Regions from separate parts of the Homo sapiens genome. Here region 1 is linked to region 2. The links come from fine-mapping of genetic effects on gene expression. A gene starts in region 2. The other region holds a variant in brackets. All regions are shown on one strand. Distances are from middle to middle. Region 1 has its middle 39 kb from the start of CCDC54. Region 2 holds the start of CCDC54-AS1 (CCDC54 antisense RNA 1).

Evidence for each region.
Region 1: its variant is fine-mapped to the expression of CCDC54-AS1 in aorta (GTEx, PIP above 0.99).

The regions. Positions count from the first base shown.
Region 1 is chr3:107,333,753-107,342,574 of GRCh38, reverse strand. No RefSeq gene overlaps it. Among named protein-coding and RNA genes, the nearest start is that of CCDC54, 39 kb to the left of the region's middle. The variant G/A (reference allele first, on the strand shown) is at 5,453.
Region 2 is chr3:107,378,462-107,387,283 of GRCh38, reverse strand. CCDC54-AS1 (CCDC54 antisense RNA 1) reads left to right here and starts at 5,125. Exons shown (of 2, transcript NR_126332.1): 1 at 5,125-5,361; 2 at 6,576-6,808. It overlaps CCDC54 (coiled-coil domain containing 54), which reads right to left. Exons shown (of 1, transcript NM_032600.3): 1 at 8,649-8,822. The coding sequence ends at 8,710.

The sequences.
Region 1 (8,822 bases), 45 kb after region 2:
TTGATGGATGTTGGATTGTTTACAATTTCAGAATATTATGAATAATGCTGCTAGGAACATTTGGGTACAAATCTTTGTGTGGACATACTTCCAGGTCTTGTGGGTGGATACCTCAGAGTGGAATTCCTGGTCGTATTGTTACCGGTGGCAGGTGTCCTGGTTCTTGGCATTTTGAACAAAGAATTGGACAAAACACACAAACAAAGCAAGGAAAGAATGAAGTAACAAAAACAGAGATTTATTGAAAACAAAAGCACACTCCACAGGGTGGGAGCCGGCTTGAGCAAGCGGCTCAAGAGCACTGGTTAGAGAATTTTCTAGGGTTTAAATACCCTTTAGAGATTTCCCATTGGTTACTTGGTGTATGCCCTATGTAAATGAAGAGGATGAAGTGAAGTTACAAAGTTATTTACTTGGTGTACGTCCTATGCAAATGAAGAGGATGTTTGCTACCGTAGCTGAAGTGAAGTTACAAAGCTCTTTATTAACACTTGGGTTTAGAAGGTTGGGGTTTTTCAGTTTAATTTAGTTCTAGGAATTCTTTAGGTTCCCTGTATGCAGAGCTTATTTCCTGCCTCAATATCACTTCTTATCATTGCTATTGATTACCTGAAATAATCAATACATTTACAAAATATTACTTCAAATGTACAATTTGGCTGAGAAAAATTTTTTATACATCACTTTACTCAGATCATGTCAGACAATTACAAAAGATTTTCTTACTGTACAATACTGGTAGATTCATCAGTTTTCAGAGAATTTTATTGACTTTGTCATTCTCTGAATAATAATTGGTCCTTTACTTTCTGTTCATAGCTGCAATTCCAAAATAGACTCTTATTTGACAGAGGCACTTTATCAATCATTTTGCTTGCTTTGTCCCCAGTCACTGCTTTTGCATTTATTTGCCTGTAGGATTATATGTGTTTCATCAATTATTTTACAACAACATAGGGAAGGTTTCTCCAGCTTTTGTATTCTTATCCGTATTACACACATGTTAGTTCCTAGGATGCCTGAATGTTCTTCTACTTTGCCTCAGAAATTTTAATAAGTTTCTCATAATGTTCTTTGTATGTGTCAAATGACACCAGTATTTTGAGACACAACCTACAATGAAATAGGTTTACTCTCAGCTGGCAAGTAAATTGCAAATTTCAAACTATTTTTGTCATTTTTGTGTAATGTTATTTTTGTTGAAGCTTGCATTTTATAACACAAACAGGTGATTCAGTCATTAATTAAGTTTTGCTATGATCAACACTAGTGCTCATATTTTTATAAATCTCTTCTATTATGTCCAGAAATTTTTTAAACCTCTTAATCATAATAGAATCAATTTTTTTTTTTTTTAAAAAAAAGGGTTCTTCAAAACCACAATGCGATACCACCTCACACCAATCAGAATGGCTATTATTAAAAAGTCAAAAAATAACAAATGCTGACAAGGTTGCAGAGAAAAAGGAATGCTTATACACTGTTGGTGGGACTGTAAATTAATTCAACCATTGTAAAAGACAGTGTGACAATTCATCAAAGGCCCAAAAACAGAAATACCATTTCACCTAGCAATCCCATTAGAAGGCATACACCCAAAGAAATATAAATCGTTCTGTTGTAAAGACACATGCACGTGTATGTTCACTGCAGCACTATTCACAATAGCAAAGACATAGAATCAACTTAAGTGCTGATCGGTGGTAGACTGGATAAAGAAAATGTGGTATATATACACCATAGAATACCATGCAGCCATAAAAAAGAACAATTGTGTCCTTTGCAGGAATGTGGTTGGAGCTGGAGGCCATTATCCTTAGCAAACTAACACAGGAACAGAAAACCAAACACCACATATTCTCACTTATAGGTAGGAGCTAAATGACGAGAATACATCGACACATAGAGGAGAACAACAACACTGGGGCCTATAGGAGGGTGGAGGGTGAAGGGTGGGAGGAGAGAAAGGATCAGGAAAAATAACTAATGTCTTAATACCTGGGTTGCAAAATAATCTGTACAACAAACCCCCCATGACACAAGTTTACCTATATAACAAACTTGCATGTGTATCCTTGAACTTAAAAGTTAAATTAAAAAAAGAGTCCAACCTGGATTATAGTTCATGATAATGTATATGTACATTTGACTTCTAGAAGTGCTGAATTGATGTATCACTAAGAAATACATGATGATAAGACAGAAAATTCAATATTATGAGAAACTATAGTGGTCATTTGTATATTCACAGTTTCCTTACATCCAAGGCAGACATTTTAATTATTGACACTTCGATCCATTCATAGGTCAGCATAAGTAACCAGACTCAGTCCATGGCATTACATATATTGGCATTACAGCAAGTAATACCATTTATAAATGATATAACCTTGCCAGTATCTGTTATTTTAAATTTTTAATAGTAGCCATTCTGACTGGTATCACATTGTGGTTTTGAAGGACTCTTTTTTAAAAAAAAATAATCCTTCTTTTTTTTTTTGAGACAGAGTCTTGCTCTGTCCTCTAGGCTGGAGTGCACTGGCACAATCTCGGCTCACTACATCCTCTGCAATTCTCCTACCTCAGCCTCCCGAGTAGTTGGGATTACAGACGCCTGCCACCATGCCTGGCTAATGTTTTTCATTTTTAAAATTTTTTTTTATTTTTTATTTTAATTTTTAATTTTTTTAATTTTTTATTTTATTTTATTTTATTATTATTATACTTTAAGTTTTAGGGTACATGTGCACAATGTGCAGGTTAGTTACATATGTATACATGTGCCATGCTGGTGTGCTACACCCATTAACTCATCATTTAGCATTAGGTATATCTCCTAATGCTATCCCTCCCCCCTCCCCCCAACCCACAACAGTCCCCAGAGTGTCATGTTCCCCTTCCTGTGTCCATGTGTTCTCATTGTTCAATTCCCACTTATGAGTGAGAATATGCGGTGTTTGGTTTTTTGTTCTTGCGATAGTATACTGAGAATGATGATTTCCAGTTTCATCCATGTCCCTACAAAGGACATGAACTCATCCTTTTTTATGGCTGCATAGTATTCCATGGTGTATATGTGCCACATTTTCTTAATCCACTCTATCATTGTTGGACATTTGGGTTGGTTCCAAGTCTCTGCTATTGTGAATAATGCCGCAATAAACATACATGTGCATGTGTCTTTACAGCAGCATGATTTATAGTCCTTTGGGTATATACCCAGTAATGGGATGGCTGGGTCAAATGGTGTTTCTAGTTCTAGATCCCTGAGGAATCACCACACTGACTTCCACAATGGTTGAACTAGTTTACAGTCCCACCAACAGTGTAAAAGTGTTCCTATTTCTCCACATCCTCTCCAGCACCTGTTGTTTCCTGACTTTTTAATGATTGCCATTCTAACTGATGTGAGATGGTATCTCATTGTGGTTTTGATTTGCATTTCTCTGATGGCCAGTGATGGTGAGCATTTTTTCATGTGTTTTTTGGCTGCATTAATGTCTTCTTTTGAGAAGTGTCTGTTCATGTCCTTCGCCCACTTTTTGATGGGGTTGTTTGTTTTTTTCTTGTAAATTTGTTTGAGTTCATTGTAGATTCTGGATATTAGACCTTTGTCAGATGAGTAGGTTGTGAAAATTTTCTCCCATTTTGTAGGTTGCCTGTTCACTCTGATGGTAGTTTCTTTTGCTGTGCAGAAGCTCTTTAGTTTAATTAGATCCCATTTGTCAATTTTGGCTTTTGTTGCCATTGCTTTTGGTGTTTTAGACATGAAGTCCTTGCCCATGCCTATGTCCTGAATGGTATTGCCTAGGTTTTCTTCTAGGGTTTTTATGGTTTTAGGTCTAACGTTTAAGTCTTTAATCCATCTTGAATTAATTTTTGTATAAGGTATAAGGAAGGGATCCAGTTTTAGCTTTCTACATATGTCTAGCCAGTTTTCCCAGCACCATTTATTAAATAGGGAGTCCTTTCCTCATTGCTTATTTTTCTCAGGTTTGTCAAAGATCAGATAGTTGTAGATATGTGGCGTTATTTCTGAGGGCTCTGTTCTGTTCCATTGATCTATATCTCTGTTTTGGTACCAGTACCATGCTGTTTTGGTTACTGTAGCCTTGTAGTATACTTTGAAGTCAGGTAGCATGATGCCTCCAGCTTTGTTCTTTTGGCTTAGGATTGACTTGGCGATGCGGGCTCTTTTTTGGTTGCATATGAACTTTAAAGTAGTTTTTTCCAATTCTGTGAAGAAAGTCTTTTGTAGCTTGATGGGGATGGCATTGAATCTATAAACTACCTTGGGCAGTATGGCCATTTCCACGATATTGATTCTTCGTACCCATGAGCATGGAATGTTCTTCCATTTGTTTGTATCCTCTTTTATTTCATTAAGCAGTGGTTTGTAGTTCTCCCTGAAGAGGTCCTTCATGTCCCTTGTAAGTTGGATTCCTAGGTATTTTATTCTCTTTGAAGCAATTGTGAATGGGAGTTCACTCATGATTTGGCTCTCTGTTTGTCTGTTATTGGTGTATAAGAATGCTTGTGATTTTTGTACGTTGATTTTGTATCCTGAGACTTTGCTGAAGTTGCTTATCAGCTTAAGGAGATTTTGGGCTGAGACAATGGGGTTTTCTAGATATACAATCATGTCATCTGCAAACAGGGACAATTTGACTTCCTCTTTTCCTAATTGAATACCCTTTATTTCCTTCTCCTGCCTAATTGCCCTGGCCAGAATTTCCAACACTATGTTGAATAGGAATGGTGAGAGAGGGCATCCCTGTCTTGTGCCAGTTTTCAAAGGGAATGCTTCCAGTTTTTGCCCATTCAGTATGATATTGGCTGGGGGTTTGTCATAAATAGCTCTTATTATTTTGAGATACGTCCCATCAATACCTAATTTATTGACAGTTTTTAGCATGAAGGGTTGTTGAATTTTGTCAAAGGCCTTTTCTGCATCTATTGAGATAATCATGTGGTTTTTGTCTTTGGTTCTGTTTATATGCTGGATTACATTTATTGATTTGCGTATATTGAACCAGCCTTGCATCCCAGGGATGAAGCCCACTTGATCATGGTGGATAAACTTTTTGATGTGCTGCTGGATTCGGTTTGCCAGTATTTTATTGAGGATTTTTGCATCAATGTTCATCAAGGATATTGGTCTAAAATTCTCTTTTTTGGTTGTGTCTCTGCCCAGCTTTGGTATCAGGATGATGCTGGCTTCATAAAATGAGTTAGGGAGGATTCCGTCTTTTTCTATTGATGGGAATAGTTTCAGAAGGAATGGTACCAATTCCTCCTTGTACCTCTGGTAGAATTCGGCTGTGAATCCATCTGGTCCTGGACTTTTTTTGGTTGGTAAGCTATTGATTATTGCCACAATTTCAGAGCCTGTTATTGGTGTATTCAGAGATTCAACTTCTTCCTGGTTTAGTCTTGGGAGGGTGTATGTGTC[G/A]AGGAATTTATCCATTTCTTCTAGATTTTCTAGTTTATTTGTGTAGAGGTGTTTGTAGTATTCTCTGATGGTAGTTTGTATTTCTGTGGGATCGGTGGTGATATCCCCTTTATCATTTTTTATTGTGTCTATTTGTTTCTTCTCTCTTTTCTTCTTTATTAGTCTTGCTAGCAGTCTATCAATTTTGTTGATCCTTTCAGAAAACCAGCTCCTGGATTCATTAATTTTTTGAAGGGTTTTTTGTGTCTCTATTTCCTTCAGTTCTGCTCTGATTTTAGTTATTTCTTGCCTTCTGCTAGCTTTTGAATGTGTTTGCTCTTGCTTTTCTAGTTCTTTTAATTGTGATGTTAGGGTGTCAATTTTGGATCTTTCCTGCTTTCTCTTGTAGGCATTTAGTACTATAAATTTCCCTCTACACACTGCTTTGAATGTGTCCCAGAGATTCTGGTATGTTGTGTCTTTGTTCTCGTTGGTTTCAAAGAACATGTTTATTTCTGCCTTCATTTCGTTATGTACCCAGTAGTCATTCAGGAGCAGGTTGTTCAGTTTCCATGTAGTTGAGCGGTTTTGAGTGAGTTTCTTAATCCTGAGTTCTACTTTGATTGCACTGTGGTCTGAGAGACAGTTTGTTATACTTTCTGTTCTTTTACATTTGCTGAGGAGAGCTTTACTTCCAACTATGTGGTCAATTTTGGAATAGGTGTGGTGCGGTGCTGAAAAAAATGTGTATTCTGTTGATTTGGGGTGGAGAGTTCTGTAGATGTGTATTAGGTCTGCGTGGTGCAGAGCTGAGTTCAATTCCTGGGTATTCTTGTTAACTTTCTGTCCTGTTGATCTGTCTAATGTTGACAGTGGGGTGTTAAAGTCTCCCATTATTATTGTGTGGGAGTCTAAGTCTCTTTGTAGGTCACTCGGGACTTGCTTTATGAAGCTAGGTGCTCCTGTATTTGGTGCATATATATTTAGGATAGTTAGCTCTTCTTGTTGAATTGATCCCTTTACCATTATGTAATGGCCTTCTTTGTCTCTTTTGATCTTTGCTGGTTTAAAGTCTGTTTTATCAGAGACTAGGATTGCAACCCCTGCCTTTTTTTGTTTTCCACTTGCTTGGTAGATCTTCCTCCATCCTTTTATTTTGAGCCTATGTGTGTCTCTGCACGTGAGATGGGTTTCCTGAATACAGCACACTGATGGGTCTTGACTCCATCCAATTTGCCAGTCTGTGTCTTTTAATGGGAGCATTTAGTCCATTTACGTTTACAGTTAATATTGTTATGTGTGAATTTGATCCTGTCATTTTGATATTAGCTGGTTATTTTGCTCATTAGTTGATGCAGTTTCTTCTTAGCTGCTATGGTCTTTACAATTTGGCATGATTTTGCAGCGGCTGGTACTGGTTGTTCCTTTCCATGTTTAGCGCTTCCTTCAGGAGGTCTTTTAGGGCAGGCCTGGTGGTGACAAAATCTCTCAGCATTTGCTTGTCTGTAAAGTATTTTATTTCTCCTTCACTTATGAAGCTTAGTTTGGCCAGATATGAAATTCTGGGTTGAAAATTCTTTTCTTTAAGAATGTTGAATATTGGCCCCCACTCTCTTCTGGCTTGTAGAGTTTCTGCCGAGAGATCCGCTGTTAGTCTGAGGGGCTTCCCTTTGTGGGTAACCCGACCTTTCTCTCTGGCTGCCCTTAACATTTTTTCCTTCATTTCAACTTTGGTGAATCTGACAATTATGTGTCTTGGAGTTGCTCTTCTCGAGGTGTATCTTTGTGGCGTTCTCTGTATTTCCTGAATCTGAATGTTGGCCTGCCTTGCTAGATTGGGGAAGTTCTCCTGGATAATATCCTGCAGAGTGTTTTCCCACTTGGTTCCATTCTCCCCGTCACTTTCAGGTACACCAATCAGACATAGATTTGGTCTTTTCACATAGTCCTATATTTCTTGGAGGCTTTGTTCATTTCTTTTTATTCTTTTTTCTCTAAACTTCCCTTCTCACTTCATTTCATTCATTTCATCTTCCATCACTGATACCCTTTCTTCCAGTCGATCGCATCGGCTCCTGAGCTTTCAGCTCCATCAGCTCCTTTAAGCACTTCTCTGTATTGGTTATTCTAGTTATACATTCTTCTCAATTTTTTTCAAAGTTTTTAACTTCATTGCCTTTGGTTTGAATTTCCTCCTGTAGCTCGGAGTAGTTTGATCGTCTGAAGCCGTCTTTTCTCAACTTGACAAAGTCCTTCTCCATCCAGCTTTGTTCCGTTGCTGGTGAGGAACTGCCTTCCTTTGGAGGAGGAGAGGCACTCTGCTTTTTAGAGTTTCCAGTTTTTCTGCTCTGTTTTTTCCCCATCTTTGTGGTTTTATCTACTTTTGGTCTTTGATGATGGTGATGTACAGATGGGTTTTTGGTGTGGATGTCCTTTCTGTTGGTTAGTTTTCCTTCTAACAGACAGGACCCTCAGCTGCAGGTCTGTTGGAGTTTGCTAGAAGTCCACTCCAGACGCTGTTTGCCTGGGTAACAGCAGCGTTGGCTGCACAACAGCGGATTTTCATGAACCGCGAATGCTGCTGTCTGATAGGTCCTCTGGAAGTTTTGTCTCAGAGGAGTACCCGGCCGTGTGAGGTGTCAGTCTGCCCCTAGTGGGGGGTGCCTCCCAGTTAGGCTGCTCAGGGGTCAGGGGTCAGGGACCCACTTGAGGAGGCAGTCTGCCCCTTCTCAGATCTCCAGTTGTGTGCTGGGAGAACCACTTCTCTCTTCAAAGCTGTCAGACAGGGACATTTAAGTCTGCAGAGGTTACTGCTGTCTTTTTGTTTGTCTGTGCCCTGCCCCCGGAGGTGGAGCCTACAGAGGCAGGCAGGCCTCCTTGAGCTGTGGTGGGCTCCACCCAGTTCGAGCTTCTCAGCTGCTTTGTTTACCTAAGCAAGCCTGGGCAATGGCGGGCGCCCCTCCCCCAGCCTCATTGCCGCCTTGCAGTTTCATCTCAGACTGCTGTGCTAGCAATGAACAAGACTCCGTGGGCGTAGGACCCTCCGAGCCAGGTGCGGGATATAATCTCCTGGTCCACTGTTTTTTAAGCCCGTCGGAAAAGCGCAGTATTAGGGTGGGAGTGACCCGATTTTCCAGGTGCCATCTGTCACCCCTTTCTTTGACTAGGAAAGGGAACTCCCTGACCCCTTGCGCTTCCTGAGTGAGGCAATGCCTCGTCCTGCTTCAGCTCGCACACAGTGTGCTGCACCCACTGTCCTGCGTCCACTGTCTGGCACTCCCTAGTGAGATGAACCCGGTACCTCAGATGGAAATGCAGAAATCACTTGTCTTCTGTGTCACTCACGCTGGGAGCTGTAGACCGGAGCTGTTCCTGTTTGGCCATCTTGGCT
Region 2 (8,822 bases):
AAAAGCAGCTATAGCTAAAGTTACTTCCCTAGCTAAATTATAACTTGTTCTATTCACTTGCTTTTGAAATTCAGACCAAGGAACATTCCATTGTCTTTATTACACAAAATAAGTTCTACAATAAAATTTTATTCTGTATTACCATCGGTTCTACGGAAAAAAAGTAAGAATGAGTCAGAATGGAGATACAGTCTAGGATCAGATGGGTACATTGAAGCAGCCATACCAAGAGGACAGTCAGAAGGCGAAGCATGATTGCCGGCCTGAGTTGGACACAGAAATCAGGACCTAGGGAGGGGGATTTGGGAAATGGATGTAGCTGTAAGAAACCACGAGAGGAAGTTGGAGCAGGAAGCAGGGATAACAGGAAGTAGAATCAGGAAGAATAGGAAAGGTAAACACTGAAACTGAGTGGGGGAAAGTGACCTTGGCTGGCAAGTGACTATATGTGTGAACCCATGGGCTGCTGCACCATCCTGAGAAAAACTGAGGTGGAAGGAGGAAGAAGGGAGAAACAGAGACAGAGAGAGAAAGAGGGAGAAGTCCACTGGTGGAAATAGTAACACTTTATCAAAAACCCAGGAAAAGAGATAGGAAAAGAGAAATAATCCTGTTTCTTTTAAAGAAGATGGCAAGAAGGAAGAGAAGACAGGCTTAGAGTGCTTCTCTAGGTTTTAGGTTTTACATTAAGTGTATTAATACATGTTTCCTGTCAAACTCTGCTCTTCCCTTGAATGACAGGCTTCACAGTAAGTTATCCTTGTCCTTTAAGACTCTTATAAACTATATAATTCACAGCTCTTCAACTTTCTAAAAGTACATTAACATTTACAGGGACCATCTGAGTCTTCTATTACAAGTATGTGTGTGTGGGTGCTTATTATCACTATTGTTTTTTTTCATCTGTAGCTATAGTAACTAGAACAATAGCACTGACAATAGGTTAAAAAAATTGATCAAAGATTATAAATCTCTGGGATGTGTGTGTATAATACACACACATTTGATACCACATATACATATATGTATGCATATAGCTAAATCTACATAAGTGTGTACATACATACATTGCCATATAATATTCACACCTCATCCCTGATCAAATGATCAATAATAGAAGACCAGCCTGACAAATTATGGGGTGAGAAAAGTCAAAGTCTCAAAGGTAATGGAACATGCACTGTATGATCTGGGGAAAGGGGTTTGGTTGAATTGCAGTAATAGCAGATTTCTTATCCTCAATCAATGCACTTTGATACTTTATGAAACATCAGGGAGACTGCACAGAGGGAGAGAAGCACAGCTAAATTTGTCTTTGACTGCTAGGCCACTGCATTTCCCTGGTTATTTTCACTGATTATTACTTAAGTTGTCAGAATCCAAGGATTCAGTATGTTCTAAAAATCACAACACCCACCATCTGTAGCCCTGGAATCTGGTTCACACTCCTATAAGCTGGGTAACTTTAGGCAAGTCACTTCTGCCTCTGGATCTCAGGTTCCTCCTCAGTAGGTTGGACCAGTTTTCTGACCTCAGTCTTTTTTCTGCCTCAACATACTGGACAGCAGCTGCCCAGCCTGTTCAGTAGTAGTAGTAATAGTAGTAGTAGTGGTAGAGTTATATGGAACATTAATTGAGTACCTACTATGTGCCAGATGATGAGCTAAGTGTTTTTCCTCATTTGTTTTTCTGAAGCACATAATTTTACTTTATATTCTATTATCTCTAATTCAGAGATAAGAAAATCAACTCAGAGGATTTAAGAAATTCAGCAAGGTCACACATCTAGTGAGTAACAGCCCTCATGAATTCTGGCCTATCCAATATCTAGGTGCTTCTTCTTAGTCCCTACATTATGCTGGTCCTATTGTCATGATTCTTAAATGGGGTACAGACAACGTCATGTCCCCCAACCCATAGGTGTATCATGGTATTGGGAGGGATTACTTTGCAAATGTCTGCTGGGAGATTTTTAAAAGACCCTTGGGGGTACCCCCACTTGAATATCACTGAACTAAGTAATCTTTAAGCTTATTTTCATAGTTAAATTTTTATGAATTGGGATCCTGCTGTTGAGAAGGAAGAAAATTTCTATTGCTACCACTCTCAACAAGATCGAATCTTGCAAACTCTGTTGTGTTTTGTTGTTCTGTAACAGCCTGCATAAATTTGCAAGTCATGAGTTCCTCTTTGTCTCCTTCAATAGCTCATTGTCTTCAGAGCAGCCTCTGATCAGAAACTTCATTAAGTCAGCTCTGATTTGTCTTCTTATCATACCTCTTAGATAACATATTGAAAATGCCAGCTGGGTCGTGATGGTGCTTTTCTAATTAGGCTGCCATAGGCATAATTTCATTTATATTGCTATAACAACAAATAGTCATGTCACTGATGGCTGTGATCGAATTACAGCCTGTACATCAAGCAATTATTATCTTTATATTTGGTAAATGTAAGTTGACTAAGTGTCACTATAAATGACAGCACTATCCAAATTTAGATTTTCTGATAATCTGAAAGACATGTCACACCTTTCATCAGGAGATTGGCCGATGAGAACACCCCTTCTGAAACAACTGACGTTAGGAATAAATCTTCAGAATCAGATGATCACCTGGCCACATTTTCATGCATTCTTTTCCTATGACAGCAGATGAGAGTGGGAGAGAAAGGTAGGATCTAAAAATAGGTGGGAAAAAAATTGGTGGAATCTTTGACAAAAACAAAGATTGGAAGAGTCCTGTTGAGAGTCATTCCTGGAAGCTTGTGCAGATTGCTTAGGGCTAACATGTAACTAAGGGTAGAAAAAGGATGATCATATCATTAAATTACCTAAGGAAGCACTGCCTTCTTTTGCCTTTTTTAGCATTTTCGGAACGCATGGTGTAGTACCTTTGCTCTGCATGGGAGGAGTGGGCTGCACTAGAACATCAGTTGTTTCTTAATCCTATTGAAGCGTTTTTCTTCTTCTTGTTCTTCCCCCACCCCACCTCTGCCTCTGTCTAGGATGTGTCTCCCCAAACCCCACATCCTTGCATCTCAAGCTTTAGGTGAAAAGAATGGCATGGGAAAGGAGAAAGATGAGAGGACAAGCTCACATATCCTATCTTGGTCCCAAGAGCCCCACTAGTGCAACGTTCCTTTACCTACATGTCCCATCTGCACAACCATCGCCCTGCTCCAGTAACTCCATCTGCCACTGACATTGGAGTTTCATGTTCCTGACAAATAAAATTAGCCTCCAAATAGGTTGTATTCCAAAAAACAAATGAAGAAGCAAAACCCACAGTTTTTGCCTCTATTCCATCATCTCCAGTATCATTATCACCATTTATTGAGCCTGACTATGTGCCAAAAATTATGCTTTACATGCTTCAATTATCTCCCTTGTATGCAGCCTTCAGTCCCTCATCACCGTAAAAAATGATGTTGGCCCCACTTCAGTCCTTATTCCCTGGACTAGATTCTCAGCAGCCACATGGAGCCTTTGTCTCTTTCCTCACCCAAGAATTTCCACCTTGGCTTCCCATCCCTGGAGCACCTGTCTTGGCCCCCACTTAGTTGCTGTTCTTTGTTCCCTGTTCTCCATGGTGTCCTCCACTAGGGCCGTCAATCTATGAAATTTTCACTCCACTATCAGATAGAAGAGAGAATAAGGAGCGTGGGGGCACTGGTCCAGCTGTCAGGATTACCACTATTGCAGTTATTTTCCTGAATACACTTTAGCATGGGAATATACGAAAACTTGGCTTTAGAGTTTTATTAATGCCATTATCTCAGCTACATTGTAGTTCAGTCAGCTTTTACAGGTTGGTCAAAAATCCAACTCTAATACTATTTCTTTGTAGTACGCATTCTGAGTTTTAAAGGATTTACAAATAAAGTTTCAGAGCATAATCCACTGATATGTTAGTGACAGTCTACATTTTGAAGGTGTGTAGAAGCATTTAGAAAAAACTATATTTTTCTGTCTTGATGAATTAACCTTGAAACATTACTTTTAGGAAAGCAATGTCTTTTTCTAAATGGGACTTGATTTGTGTCCCACAAAAAAGCTAAATTAAGTTTTAAATGAAGAGTGTGGTTTTCCAATCCAAATCTAAGCAACAGACCAAAATAATTGGCAACTGGAAATAACACCATTTGAAAGTATGTTCTTTCAGGACAGGACTGATGTCTTTGCATCTCTGTTTGTTCACACCTAGCTCAGCTATTTCCTGGTATAGAGTCAAATTTCAATAAATGTTGGTGAATATTGTTTTTGAATGAACAGAATGCTGTTAGTGTCTGTGTCTACGCAAGCAAGTATTACACACTGAACTAAATTATTTATCCTAACTCAGCCTCCCTTCCCTCCAGATCCTTTTCTTTGTTGCTTATTTATACAGCGTGCAATTAAAGGTTGGCAAACGACTGTTGTAGATGATGGAATATTGGTTGAGTGCCCAGACCAGGAGGAGAGCTTCACACCCCGTCTTATTCTTATCACACTGTCTTTGGATGAGGGAGTCAAGATTTTGTTTGAAGCATTTGTATTTAGCCTGTCACTTTGTTCCCTATTTGTCTGGAGTCCTTTATGGCTGATGAAAGGAGGCAGAATCCTGAATGTGAGCTGCTTGAGGCAGGGCCCATGTCCTGTTCATCTTCATGCCTTCCATTGACATTTAGCCTATGGAGGGAAGGAAATGACCACCATATGCTAAGCACCTACGAAATCAGGCATTATTCTTGGCAGATTATACACATGATTTCATTTAATTAACACAAGAGTCTCATGACATAAATTGTTCTCAGTTCGGAGTTGAGAAAACTGAATTCAAGTTTTAAGGACTGCCAAAATCACATAGTTATGAGGGTCATGATTGTACACCCAACTAGCATAGTGCCTGATACATAATATAAATGTTTAGTAAATAGTCATTCTAAAATCTGTTCTTCTTTGAATGTCTTTGCTCTTTTTACCACCGAGTGTTTCCTCCCCAATAGATGTGTTTAATAGCAAAAACAATGATTTGAGATGTTTTGGTGAATGCACAATGACTTTCATGTTTGACTGATATACATTATAGACATTCGTCTAATTATATTTATATACATTTTTTTGTAGACACACAAGTGGAGAAGATAAATAGTAATTTGGAACCAAAACTCAGGACGTCCCAGGAGAGGCTAGATTAGGAATTCTTTGATTTGGGATCACGAAAATGAAGTATCCATATTTTAACAGAATGATTAGTGGCAGAGGAATCATCTAAGAAAACTGAGAAGACTCTGCCAGAGTGATGGGAAGAAAACTAGATGAGAAAGCACCATTCTGGAAGACATGCTCCCATGAACCATGGAGAGAAGAGGAGAGGGAAGGTGAGGACAGGGAGGGTGGGCCTCTCATTAAAAAAGATGATGGGAAATTGGCAGGAGACGAGGGGAACACAAGGACAAGGGAACCAGGTGAGTATTTTTGTAAGCGGAGTACAAAGAACTGAGAGGTGGTGATTAAGATGGAGGGGAAAGGGGGAGTAATTGATGAAGACTCTGCAAGGCACTGGTGGAGGAATGTGGGTTAGAGAAACGCCACTTCTCCAAGCCAGGAGGGATGGAGGTGGGCTGGTGAGAGGCAGGTGAACTTGCAAACCAGGACTGGGGAAAAGTTATTTGCTCACATGCTGAGTTATAAGATGATTTATAATTTTAACAAGTCATGTGAGATCTTGTCTAGGTGACAATAAATAATTGACTCAGAAGTAAAATCCTCCCTTTGCTCACAGGGAACTCAATTCATTAACAGGACAAACAGAATCCTCTCTAGGGAAAGTGCGAGACCTTGCGAAAATCACGTAGAGTCACTTTCTCCCCCTCTAACATTCTTATGTAGGTAAAGAAAACAGGTTGAAATGAGCATGGTGGGAATCTCTGAAGAGAAAAATTAGATCCATAAAAGGGTTGAAATAATAGCCTGTCTGTACTTTATGTTGTATAATGCCCGGTGGCTTTCACATCCCACGTTCCTTACTATCCCCCCGCCCTCTGCTCCTGTTTTTCCCTCTGTCAGCTGCATTGTCCTCTCCACCTCCTCCTCACTTTACTTCCTTAGCACAAGGCTCATCAAGCTTGTTTCTTCTCTGACACCAGCAATACTTGCAGTATTGCTATTTGCTGCCCATCCCCATTTATCATGTCTCAGAGTTCTTTGTGTACATTTTTTATTTATGCCATTTAATGTTCTATATTTACAGGACATGGAATGTCTACCTTTTCTTGTATCCTCCATGATCCCTTATTATTAGTGAACACTGAAAAAATATTTACTAAGTTCATATAATGATTATATTTTTACAGCTGACAGAAAAACCTCATTGAAATTAAATAATATAATTTGTAAGAGTAAAATTTAGGACTTAGGTTGAGAACCTTGGTCTTTTGATCCTCAAGCGTGTGCCTGTAAACTGCGTGCCTCTCTAGAAACATTAAGGGCTGTGTAAGGGACATGTGAGGGGGAAAAATGAAAGTCAGTGCTGATATACAGAGGCTCAGACGACCCAGGCTTATACCAGCTGGGTCACTTTTTTCTCTTCCAGAAGTTATTTGTGATGTCATTTGCCTGTGTCATGGCCTGCCTTCCCTAGATATTGTCCTAATGTGAGCATCACACCTAAGGTACTGAAGTAGAGTTCTGGCTGTTCCTTACGGACATCTCTGGTGGTAAGTAAATACATAGAGATTGCTAGTGCCTTTAACAGAACAATACATTGTAAGCACAGTTATCTCATTTTTAAACAAACTCATTTAATAAATACCTTTGCTTTTATTAGGTATGTTGCATATTGACATATTTTATTTTTTAACTTTTATTTTAGTTTTGGGGTACATGCGCAGGTTTGTTTTATAGGTAAACTCAAGTCGTTAGTACCCAGGTACTAAGCCTAATACTCAATAGTTATTTTTTTCTGCTTCTCTCCCTCCTCCCAACCTTCACTTTCAAGTAGGCACCAGTATCAGTTGTTCCCTTCTTTGTGTCCATGAGCTCCCATCTTTTAGCTTCCACTTGTGAGAACATGTGGTAGTTGGTTTTCTGTTCCTGCATTAGTTTGCTAAGGATAATGGCCTTCAGCTCCAGCCACATTCCTGGAAAAGACATGATCTCATCTATTTTTGTGGCTGTCTATAGTATTCCATGGTGTATATGTACCATATTTTCTTTATCTAATCTGTAATTGATGGGCATTTAGGTTGATTCCCTGCATTTTGACATATTCTAAAAGTTATTATGTACATATCTATAAATTTGTAAAGAAGGATCAAATAGAATATATTTGTCAATGAAAAAATAATGTGTTATATAATTACTCCCAGATTGGCGTCAGACGAAGCTGTGTCTTAATTTTTGCTGTGCCCACCTTTAGGTCCTTTGTCCTCTTTCATTTGTTCTCAGCTAGCTACCAAAACCCCCCTTTCAAAGTATTGACTGCAAATAATTAAGTGTAGTACATTTGCCAGGAATATTTGTGGTTTAATATATGACCACAAAGGAAGGTAGCGTTCATTCACTGAGTTAAGTGGTGAAGGAAACATTGTTTTTCAGTTATTCTGCATGATATTCAGAAATTACAATGACAACCACCTGTTATATCTAAAAATGAAGCTCTTCTTGGCTATATGCTTTAAACAAACAAACAAAGAAAAACCTATCATATAAGAGTTTATGGTATTATAGTGGTAAGATTTAACTTAGTTCACAAACCCCTTCTTAGATCTTCCCTTTTCCCCTGCATCAAACCTATAGGACATGGTATTTTTCTCCTTTCATGAAAATGTAAAAATTACCCAGTATCATATTGTCTTTCTCCTCTTATCTAATTGTTTCATAGAAAAGAAGCTGAAGTTGAAAGAAAAAGCCAATATTTTGAATATGTTCCTTGCAATAACTTAGCCTTTCAATCCCTTTCATTTTTATACTGCTAACTTTAGTAGCCTTGACAATGGGTATCCTTTTCACTCTATACTACCTAAAGTCTGACCGGGCGTGGTGGTTCATGCCTGTAATCCCAGCTCTTTGGCAGGTCGAGGTGGGTGGCTCGCTTGAGGCCAGGTGTTTGAGACCAGCCTGGTCAACATGGTGAAACTCTGTCTCTACTAAAAATACAAAAATTAGCTGGGTGTGGTAGCGTGCGCCTGTAATTCCAGCTACTCAGGAGGCCGAGGTAGGAGAATCACTTGAACCCGGGAGGTGGAGGTTGCAGTGACCCGAGATTGCACCACTACACTCCAGCTGGGTGACAGAGTGAGACTCCATTTCAAAAATAAATAACAAATAAAATGAAGTCTTGTCAGTAGTGTATGTTTCTGGTATCACAAACCGTATCCACAAAGGCCACGAGGACAAAGTGTATAGAAAACTGACATGGAGGCCACCAAACATACTACACATTGCCCTGGACTCCTTCATTCTTTGTTTCCAATTATCTATGAAAATGGACCCAGGATGAGTCCTCATGAATTGCCTTTGAGAAAACAAGAACATTGAGAGAAAACGAATTACAACAGTTCAATTAGATCATGTGCCTTAACTTACTGTAGACATAGAGAAACTCTGCAGATAGTGGGCCCAGAGTGAGCAAACTACCGAAGAATTCACAGCCACCACACCAATGTGTGAATACTTGGAGCCTCCAGGTTACATTTATTTTGTGCCAAGCAAAGCAGAACATAACTCTATAGTCGAGTTACTTCTTCTTTTAAGGAACAAATAAAGCCGTAAATATTGTTGAAGATGGAGAGACAGATTGTGGTCAAGCTCAAAATGGGCCCAGTGAATGGACAGTATC